Linked DNA regions of Homo sapiens: region 1 is linked to region 2. The links come from fine-mapping of genetic effects on gene expression. A gene starts in region 2. The other region holds a variant in brackets. All regions are shown on one strand. Distances are between the middles of the regions. Region 1 overlaps PRUNE2 (prune homolog 2 with BCH domain). Region 2 holds the start of PRUNE2 (prune homolog 2 with BCH domain).

Region 1 (4,396 bases), 200 kb after region 2:
TAGGTGCCAGCAAGGAAATATCAGAATTGGAAGAAGAAAAAACAATTCCTACCAAAGAGCCTGAGCAGATAAAATCAGAATACAAGGAAGAAAGATGTACAGAGAAGAATGAAGATCGTCATGCACTACACATGGATTACATACTTGTAAACCGTGAAGAAAATTCACACTCAAAGCCAGAGACCTGTGAAGAAAGAGAAAGCATAGCTGAATTAGAATTGTATGTAGGTTCCAAAGAAACAGGGCTGCAGGGAACTCAGTTAGCAAGCTTCCCAGACACATGTCAGCCAGCCTCCTTAAATGAAAGAAAAGGTCTCTCTGCAGAGAAAATGTCTTCTAAAAGCGATACGAGATCATCTTTTGAAAGCCCTGCACAAGACCAGAGTTGGATGTTCTTGGGCCATAGTGAGGTTGGTGATCCATCACTGGATGCCAGGGACTCAGGGCCTGGGTGGTCTGGCAAGACTGTGGAGCCGTTCTCTGAACTCGGCTTGGGTGAGGGTCCCCAGCTGCAGATTCTGGAAGAAATGAAGCCTCTAGAATCTTTGGCACTAGAGGAAGCCTCTGGTCCAGTCAGCCAATCACAGAAGAGTAAGAGCCGAGGCAGGGCTGGCCCGGATGCAGTTACGTTGCAGGCTGTCACCCATGACAATGAATGGGAAATGCTTTCACCACAGCCTGTTCAGAAAAACATGATCCCTGACACGGAAATGGAGGAGGAGACAGAGTTCCTTGAGCTCGGAACCAGGATATCAAGACCAAATGGGTAAGCAAAAAGCTAGATTTATTTTTTTTCCTGAAAAGCAATTTATTTAGAAACCTGGGAAATGGTTAGAGGTTATGGAATATGAGGAATACCTGGATGATAGCAGCTTTGCTTATATTGAATGCAAGGCACACCATCAGTAAAAGCAGCTACTAGATAACTATAACCATAATGATAATTTATGTACATTTTCAGCCAAAAAGCCCCTTCAATTTTCATTCAGTCTTATACCTACCCCCCAACTGCCACCCCACCTACTTGAATACCTACATGACTCTTCAACAGGCAGTTGGGAATACAAGGAAGTGACACTAACATTTAATCAGCACCTACTATGTGCAAGGCAGTTTGCATACATTATCTCATTTAATCCTAACATGCCAGTGGGGGGAATGGAAGGAGTAGGGTTGAGTAGGGGGATTCAAGGCTCAGAAATTTTCTATAATTTGCCTAGAATTAAGTAACCAGAGTGAACACCTGGGATTCGAAGCTTGCCACCTCCAAAGCCTGTACTTTCTCAGTTGACACACCGCTTAGCATACAGAGGCATTTTCATATTTTCAAATACAAGGCATTTTCTGGTTTTATGTAAGCACCTAACTTATAGTTAGATAAGAGACAGGCTCCACAGCAGTCTCCAAATCTCAGTGTAACACATTCATTCCCTAATTGGCAGAGAAATTGGCAAACTGTCATTAAATCAGTGATTCATTCATTCATTCATTCACCATGTGGTTTTTGAGAGCTTGCTCTGTGCCGTGGTTCTGGGTAGCCAATGGGCATATATCAGGGAATAGGATGTCATCACTGCCCTCAAGCTTCCAGTCTCTGCTGAAACTGTTTAGCATTCTTCATTTCTCTTCATTTGTGTTTATGAAGCCCACCTGCTTCCAGGGACAAAAGAACAAATTGTGAAAAGTAACTTAAGTAACGGGGAAAGTCATGTTTTCTCCTTAAAATGTAATAGAGAAAAGATATCGGCCAGGTGCGGTGGTTCATACCTGTAATCCCAACACCTTGGGAGCCCAAGGTGAGTGGATCACTTGAGGTCAGGAGTTTGAAACCACCCTGGCTAACATGGTGAAACCCCGTCTCTACTAAAAATTCAAAACTTAGC[T/C]GGGGTGGTGGCAGCACCTGTAATCCCAGCTACTTGGGAGGCTGAGACAGGAGAATTGCTTGAACCTGGGAGGTGGAGGTTGCAGTGAGCCGAGATCGTGTGACTGCACTCCAGCCTGAGTGACAGAGCCAGACTCCGTCTCAAAAAAAAAAAAAAGCGAGAAAAGATATATTTTTGCTACTCAGCTTGGGAGTGTAAAGGACTATACACATCACATACCCACAGTGAGTCAAGGAATCTGGATTCCAGCCTGCCTCTACCATGACTGATTATACATTTTAGGATTAATCCCAGGCTTAGGTTTTCTCATGCGTAAAATTAGTGAGTTGGGCTGAAAGATCTCAAGGCTTCCTGCAGTATTAAATTCTGGGAACTTAATTTGTGTGGAAACAGAATGTGTCCAGGGGAGCTTTGGCATTCACAAATTACATTTCTTGATGAAAGGAACAAGGACAATGGAAAGAATAGCTGGGGTATGTTGAGGATTAGCCAAGTGCAGAAGGGGTTAAAAGCTCTACCATATTCCAGGGCAGCTTCATAAATCCAGACATTGTCAGCTGGCCTAATCCTTCTTTCTTCCTGTCAAGCTATTTTCTTCCAGAGAGACCCCAGATCCGTTATCAGAAAGAGAGTAGCAGATGGATCCCAGCAGCCCTGCTGGCATTGTTATAGATTGAGCTCAGAACTCAGGCAGCCATGAGTTGGCTGAGCTATTGTTTGGCTTCTTGTGTGCATTTTGCACATGCCCCGAGATCCAACAGATGACAGTCAGTGTTCAATTGTGCCACCAGCACCTTTTCTTTCAACAAGATTTCTTTGCTCATCCCTTTCTGCTCAGCTTTTGTAGTACTGAAACTTTTCTCACAATGGGGATGGGGCAGATTTTCCCTCCGGCATGTGTATTATCTTTTGCATAAATAATTTACTGTGAATGTGTAAGTCTCCCTCTGTGCTAGATTTTGGGAGAATAAAGAGTTGTCTAAAACTGTGGTTCTCTAAGTGGGGTCCTAAGAACAGCAGCATCAGTATCACCTGAGTACTTGTTAGAAATGCAAATTATCGGCTCCGACTCAGACCTCCGGAATCAGGAACTCTGGGGGTGAGGCCCAGCCAGCTGAGCTTCAGCAACTCCTGATGCCCTCCAAAGCTTGAGAACCACTGGTTTAAAACATACTGTCAGCCGTCTAGGAGTTTACAGTTTAACTAAAGAGTTAGACATAAGTAAAAAGGTAGATAGCAGTGTAATATTTAAGTCAAGCTAGTCAATGCCCAATGTCAGTTTAAGTATAAAATGGGTACTAACTACAGGCTATTTGCTGTTGGACCAGGTGTTAAGCACTCTGCGCTATTTCACTTTACATAGGGCAACCCTGCGAGACAAGAATTATACAAGTGAGGAAATAAGAGGAGAGATATCTGTTTCGGGCGCCTTTATGGAGCAGGCAGCAGGAATGGCTTATTCTCTGTCAGACACAGGAGACAGAGTGCCCAGGGCCCATGATACTTTAAGGAGCCCATGAGAATATTTTCTTTTATAGTCAGAAGAAAAAATTATTATACTTTCAAGTGGATTTGTCTTTATACCAACAAAGTTATAAAATAAATTTTTAAAAAATGTTTTAATGACAGAAGGGGCTTATGAAGGCACTCCTCAAGGGGCTTATGAAAGTCACTAAAGGAAAGGTCATAATTTGGAAAGGCAAAGAAGAGGGTAAGAAGCTAGCTGAGTGAACTGGGATGAATACTATGAAGGAAGCCATGGGGACAGGAAGGTAATCACAGAAGCAAAACAATGAGATAGCTGTGGTTTCCCAAACAAAAACCTGGAAACATCTTCTGACACATAATCTGATCATAGAACAGAAGATCCAAAATCAAGACCATTCTGCAAAAAAGAAAATTAAGAAAGCCTCTTCTTAAATAGAAATAGGTTCATAGTATGTGCAATATGACTCACCAGCTGCAAATCAGCTTCTTCCCTCCCCTCCTTCAGCCTCAGCCTCTCTTAGCTGCCAAACTGTTTTGAGAGCTGCAAGCCACATTTTGAAAATCTGAGAAAGCATGAGAAAAATGCCTTTTCTCCTCATATGCCACCTACTGACTCTTGTTAACAAAACTTGTTACTAGGGCTGAAAGATAACCTCTCTCCCTTGAGATTTGCAGCACTGCATTCATGTTCCCTAGGATCAATCTTTCCAGAATCCTTTGCCAACACCTTGGTCATCCTCCAGCTATAGACCTGTCCAGCAGGGGATCAAATACCAGTTCCCCAAGACAGTGATGGATGTGCCTGATCTTTCCTACATAGTCACAAAGAACATTTGCAGGGTAATCTGTAGCACACAGACCTTTCTTAAAAGGAAGAAACATTTAGCTGTTTATTTTAAAGAAAGCATGATTGGAAGAATGATGTGTGAAGAAAGGGGTAATTTGGTTACATGTTAGGGTTTTTCAGAAAAACAGAACAAATAGGAGATATCTGTATTTAGATCTCCATCTTGCTATCTAGCTAG
Region 2 (4,396 bases):
GCAGACAGAATCTCCAGCTTCCACAAAGCCCACCCCTGAATGTCACCTGGAGCTTAATATTCTTATCACTCTCCTTTAATCAGATCTGTGGACCCTGCTGATTTGTTTTCATTGGATCCTTCTGAATAAAAAATAATTGGATCATGAGACACACATATACACACAGAGACAGACAAGAAAACAGACACACATTGAGACAGGAGAAATAGAGCAAAAAAAAAAAAAACCCTTCCATATGTACCTTTTTTCATTAAAACATATTTATTGAGGACCTGTATATGACATGAACATACATCATGTTAGGGTTCCATCAGTGAATGAGACAGGCAAGGTCCCTGTCTTTACAGAGCTCACAGCCTGGTGGAGGACATAGACAAATAATTATGCAATTTATAGCAGAGTGGAAAATGTAAGTTGCTATGAGGGAATACAGAAGGGGCAACCAACTCAGTCTGGGGATGGGAAGGGAAAAGTGTGTTGGGGAGGCTTTCTGGAGAAAGAGAACTTCTACGCCACTCACTGTCAAAGTGTGGTTTTTGGATCAGCAGCATCGGCAAACCCTGGGAGATTGTATACATGGACATTCTCAGGCCCATTAAGCCACACCTATTAGGGCTAAAATTCTAAGGATGGGGCACGGAAATCTGTGTTTCATCAAGCCCTCTAAGTGATTTAGATACATGTAAAGTTCATCGAGAATCAGAGCATCACACCTGAACTGCACATTAGAATCACTTGGGTCACTTTCCACAGAAATGCTGTGGCCCCATGCCCAGAGATATTAATTTAATTGGACTGGGATAAAGCCCTGGTATCAGTACTTTCTCAAGTCTCAGGTGATTACGATGTGATTTTACTGTGCAGTCAGGGTTGAGGCTACTTCTGTAGAACAGCTGAGGCTGGGGGCTAGGACAAGGGCTGGAAGGATCTTACAGGTGGTGTGCAAAAGCCCAGAGGTCAGAGAAAGCCTGATGTAGTGTGTTTGGGGACCGGACAAGGCTACATACAACAAAACCCCATGATTTAAAATAAGGTTTGTAGATATAAGTTCATTTGTTCATTGTAGTACTTCTTAAACTTTAACAAGCATAGAAATCATCTGAGGGTCTCATAGAAACACACAGATTCTGATTTGGTAAGTAGGAGCAGGGGACTGAGGTTCTGCATTTCTATAAGATCAGCGATGCTGATGTTGCCGGTCTGCAGACTGCACCTCACCTTAGCAAGGTTCTATTGCCCCAGCTTTCCCTGAGGGTACATGTCAGTGGATGGGAACTGCAGAAGGATGTATCTATGCATTAGTCCCAGGGCTGACATAAGGGCACCTAGTTGGGGTGAACTGTGGATGCCCATTGTTGTGTGGACATGTTTTCATGGTAGGGAGGAAAGACGCAGCCTCGCCCAACCTCCTAGCCTGCTCTTCTGATTATTATCCATCAAGGTCGTACTGCTTTTAGCTCAGCAGTAACTCCCCTCTTTCTCTCCTCGTCCCTCCCACGCCAATCTAGCTGAGTGCCTCCCCCGGCCAGGCCAGCCGACCAGATCATTAAGTGACCGCCGGAGTGCTCCGTAACGCGCCAGCCAGCCAGTGAGGCGCTGGGCGAGGCGGGGGCTCTCCTGGGACCCGTCTCCCTCTTCCCACCTTCCCCCGCTGACCGCGGCGGTGCCTGCGGCAGAGCCTCCCTCTGCAGCAGCCCCTTGCACTTGGCTCGCACTTCTGGGCGCTGTCCATGGTTGCAGCAGCTTTCGGCGCGCCACGTCAGGAGGCCGCAGCACGGCCCTGCGATTGGCGGAGGAGCCCCTCGCCATACCCCTGCACCTCCGCCCACGCGCCACGGCGCCCGAGGCGCGTGCCAGAGAGCGTGCCCGGCGCGCCCCGGGGCTCCTGGGCGGCACACCCACTTTCCTTATTAGGGCAGAGTCGGGTGCCCAGAGCCGGCGGCCGGGCGAGGGGTGGGGCGGGGAGCCCTGGGCGAGACGGTCGAGGGCGCAAGCACAGCCTCCGCCGCAGCCGCCTCAGAGCGGCAGGAGGGAGCAGTCGGTCGCTGCGCCCCGGCGGGCCACTTTCCCGGGACCCCGCTCGTCTTCCTTGGGCCGAGATTTTCCACTGCGCCCCTCCGAGTACCCGGGTTCCAAACCCCTAGCCACGACATGGAAGAATTTTTGCAACGCGCCAAATCTAAACTGGTAAGTTGAGTGAGCAAAGCTGTGTGTGTGCGCGCGCGCGTATGCTAATGGAAAGGTGGAGAGGAAAAGGTGTTGCAGCAGAGGAGGAAGAAACAACTTTGCCACGGAGTTATCAGGGTGTGCGGGTTGTCTCCTGGAAGAAATCTCAGGAACTCTGGCTCTTAAAGCTGGCAATCTGTCTCCAGAATCCTCCACCGCAACCAGACGAGGTGCAGAGCTGAAGGAGGTTGTGGCCTGGCTGAAGTTGGGTCGCTTCAGTCCAGCTTCGGTCCCTAAATCAGCAGTTTGCTCCTGAAAGCTAAGGGATAAATGGGTGTGGTCTTCCTTGAGATAAAGAGCCCAGCCTTCTGCAGATGCATTACGTGTAAGTGTAAAAGGAAAAAAAGAGACCCTTAGAACTGTACTTCAGCTGGAGGTGACAAAAGTGAGGAAGTCAGGGTGCTGGGTAGCAAGGACATGTGTGGTACTGGAGAATCCACAGAATAGAGCTTGCTCCACTGCAGGAGTTAGGGATATTCTAGTGTGTCTTGTGTCTCGCTAATTCCTGTTCACATCTGTAAATTGGGGCGGAGGCAGAAGGGGAAAGCTCTAACTGTTGGTGTTCTGGAGTTTACCAGATCATCGTTCTCCCGGGAGCAGACCTGTGTGTTAGCCCATGTTTACCATATCACTGTCCAAACAGTGAATGGGCAACTCCACTGTGTATGTTAACAGTTGCTACACATTCTGAAACAACAGACTCTAGCAGTTTCTTAATTCCAAACTGTTTTGGCTCTCCAGCACAGCAGTAATAAACATAATGGAAATGTTTCTGTTTTGGCAGAAAAAAAAAGAAAAGCCTGTACTCATTTAGAAGCAATATCTTTAAAGAACTGTAAAAGCACCTTTTACAGGCCTGGCATAGAAAGAAATGCATAATTTATGATGCCTTTAACCTTTAAGCCTTCATAGAAGCCAAAATGTAAAGTCTGCATTAAGGTAATGTTTTAATCACAAGGCAGGATATTTGCAGGGTTATTACTGTAACTCATTTACCCTCGCACAACAAAGGGAGTGCAGGAAGGGAGGGCCCAAAGATGCCTGAACCACCATTCAGAGTGCAGACGGAAGTGTGATCCTTACAATGGTCTAACTGTAACTATCTTGTAAAAGACCATTAAAGTTGATAAGTGCTTATATAAAACTTTCTACCTGAAACCTCCCAGAGAGTTGAACGTTTGTGGAGATTTCCGAGTTGAGGAAGTTTGTGATCATCTCTGTGTTTATTGACCCTTTTATAGTTTTACTAGAGCACATGGATGAAAATACTAATTTCAGAAACTCAAGTAAGTATTTGGCATTTCTGATAGTATAAGTACATGTTCTGTTCTTTACCTAGTAATGAAGGAGAAATGTTCAAAAATGAAAGACAATTTTGGCAACTGTGCGTGTGTGTGTATGAAAATGGTAATCAATGACAAACACAGAGTTCTGGGCTGTATCTGTTTTTCACTCCCATAACATTTATTTATCAATATTTTCACAATAAACATTTAGACTGTGGGGTCTGATATGAGCAAGAGGTTTGTCTCAATTCTGAGGAGCAGTTGCTGGAATGGAAGTTTCCCTATTTCCGAGTAATGAGTTGAAAGTAATCTGTAATTTATTTACCCTTCATTAGACGAGCAATTGCTCTACATCATTAAAAAAAAAAGGACAGGAAAGAGAAGCGGTTGTTTGAAATATTGTTACCAGTTTCATGTCTTAGCCAGAACAATTACTGCTAATTTTATCGTTTCTTGGAATAAGCTTCTTCTAGAAATCATGATTAACCTTTCACATCCAGCCACAGCAAAGGTGTGTTGGTCACTTTTAGTGTCATATTTTCCTGAGAAGTTACATTTTCTAGGTAATAAGATTTTTACTTAATGTATGACACTCAAATATAGTAGTAGATAACATTCTCCTTTAGAGGGTAGATAACCTTTTTCTTGGAGAAAAAGAATTAAGTCAATGTCATTCACTTGTGGGAAATTTATTTATAATAAAAAGGTAAGATTTGGCCGGGTGTGGTGGCTCACGCCTGTAATCCCAGCACTTTGGGAGGCTGAGGCGGGTGGATCACCTGAGGTCAGGAGTTCGAAACCAGCCTGGCCAACATGGTGAAACCTCATCTCTACTAAAAGTACAAAAGTTAGCCAGGCATGGTGGCGTGTGCCTGTAATCCCAG

The links.
Region 1: its variant is fine-mapped to the expression of PRUNE2 in blood mononuclear cells (TOPMed, PIP 0.96).

What each region holds. Positions count from the first base shown.
Region 1 is chr9:76,699,707-76,704,102 of GRCh38, reverse strand. It overlaps PRUNE2 (prune homolog 2 with BCH domain), which reads left to right. Exons shown (of 19, transcript NM_015225.3): 9 at 4-766. Among named protein-coding and RNA genes, the nearest start is that of PCA3, 63 kb to the left of the region's middle. The variant T/C (reference allele first, on the strand shown) is at 1,884.
Region 2 is chr9:76,903,719-76,908,114 of GRCh38, reverse strand. It overlaps PRUNE2 (prune homolog 2 with BCH domain), which reads left to right and starts at 2,001. Exons shown (of 19, transcript NM_015225.3): 1 at 2,001-2,187. The coding sequence starts at 2,152. RefSeq lists a silencer at 1,872-1,931.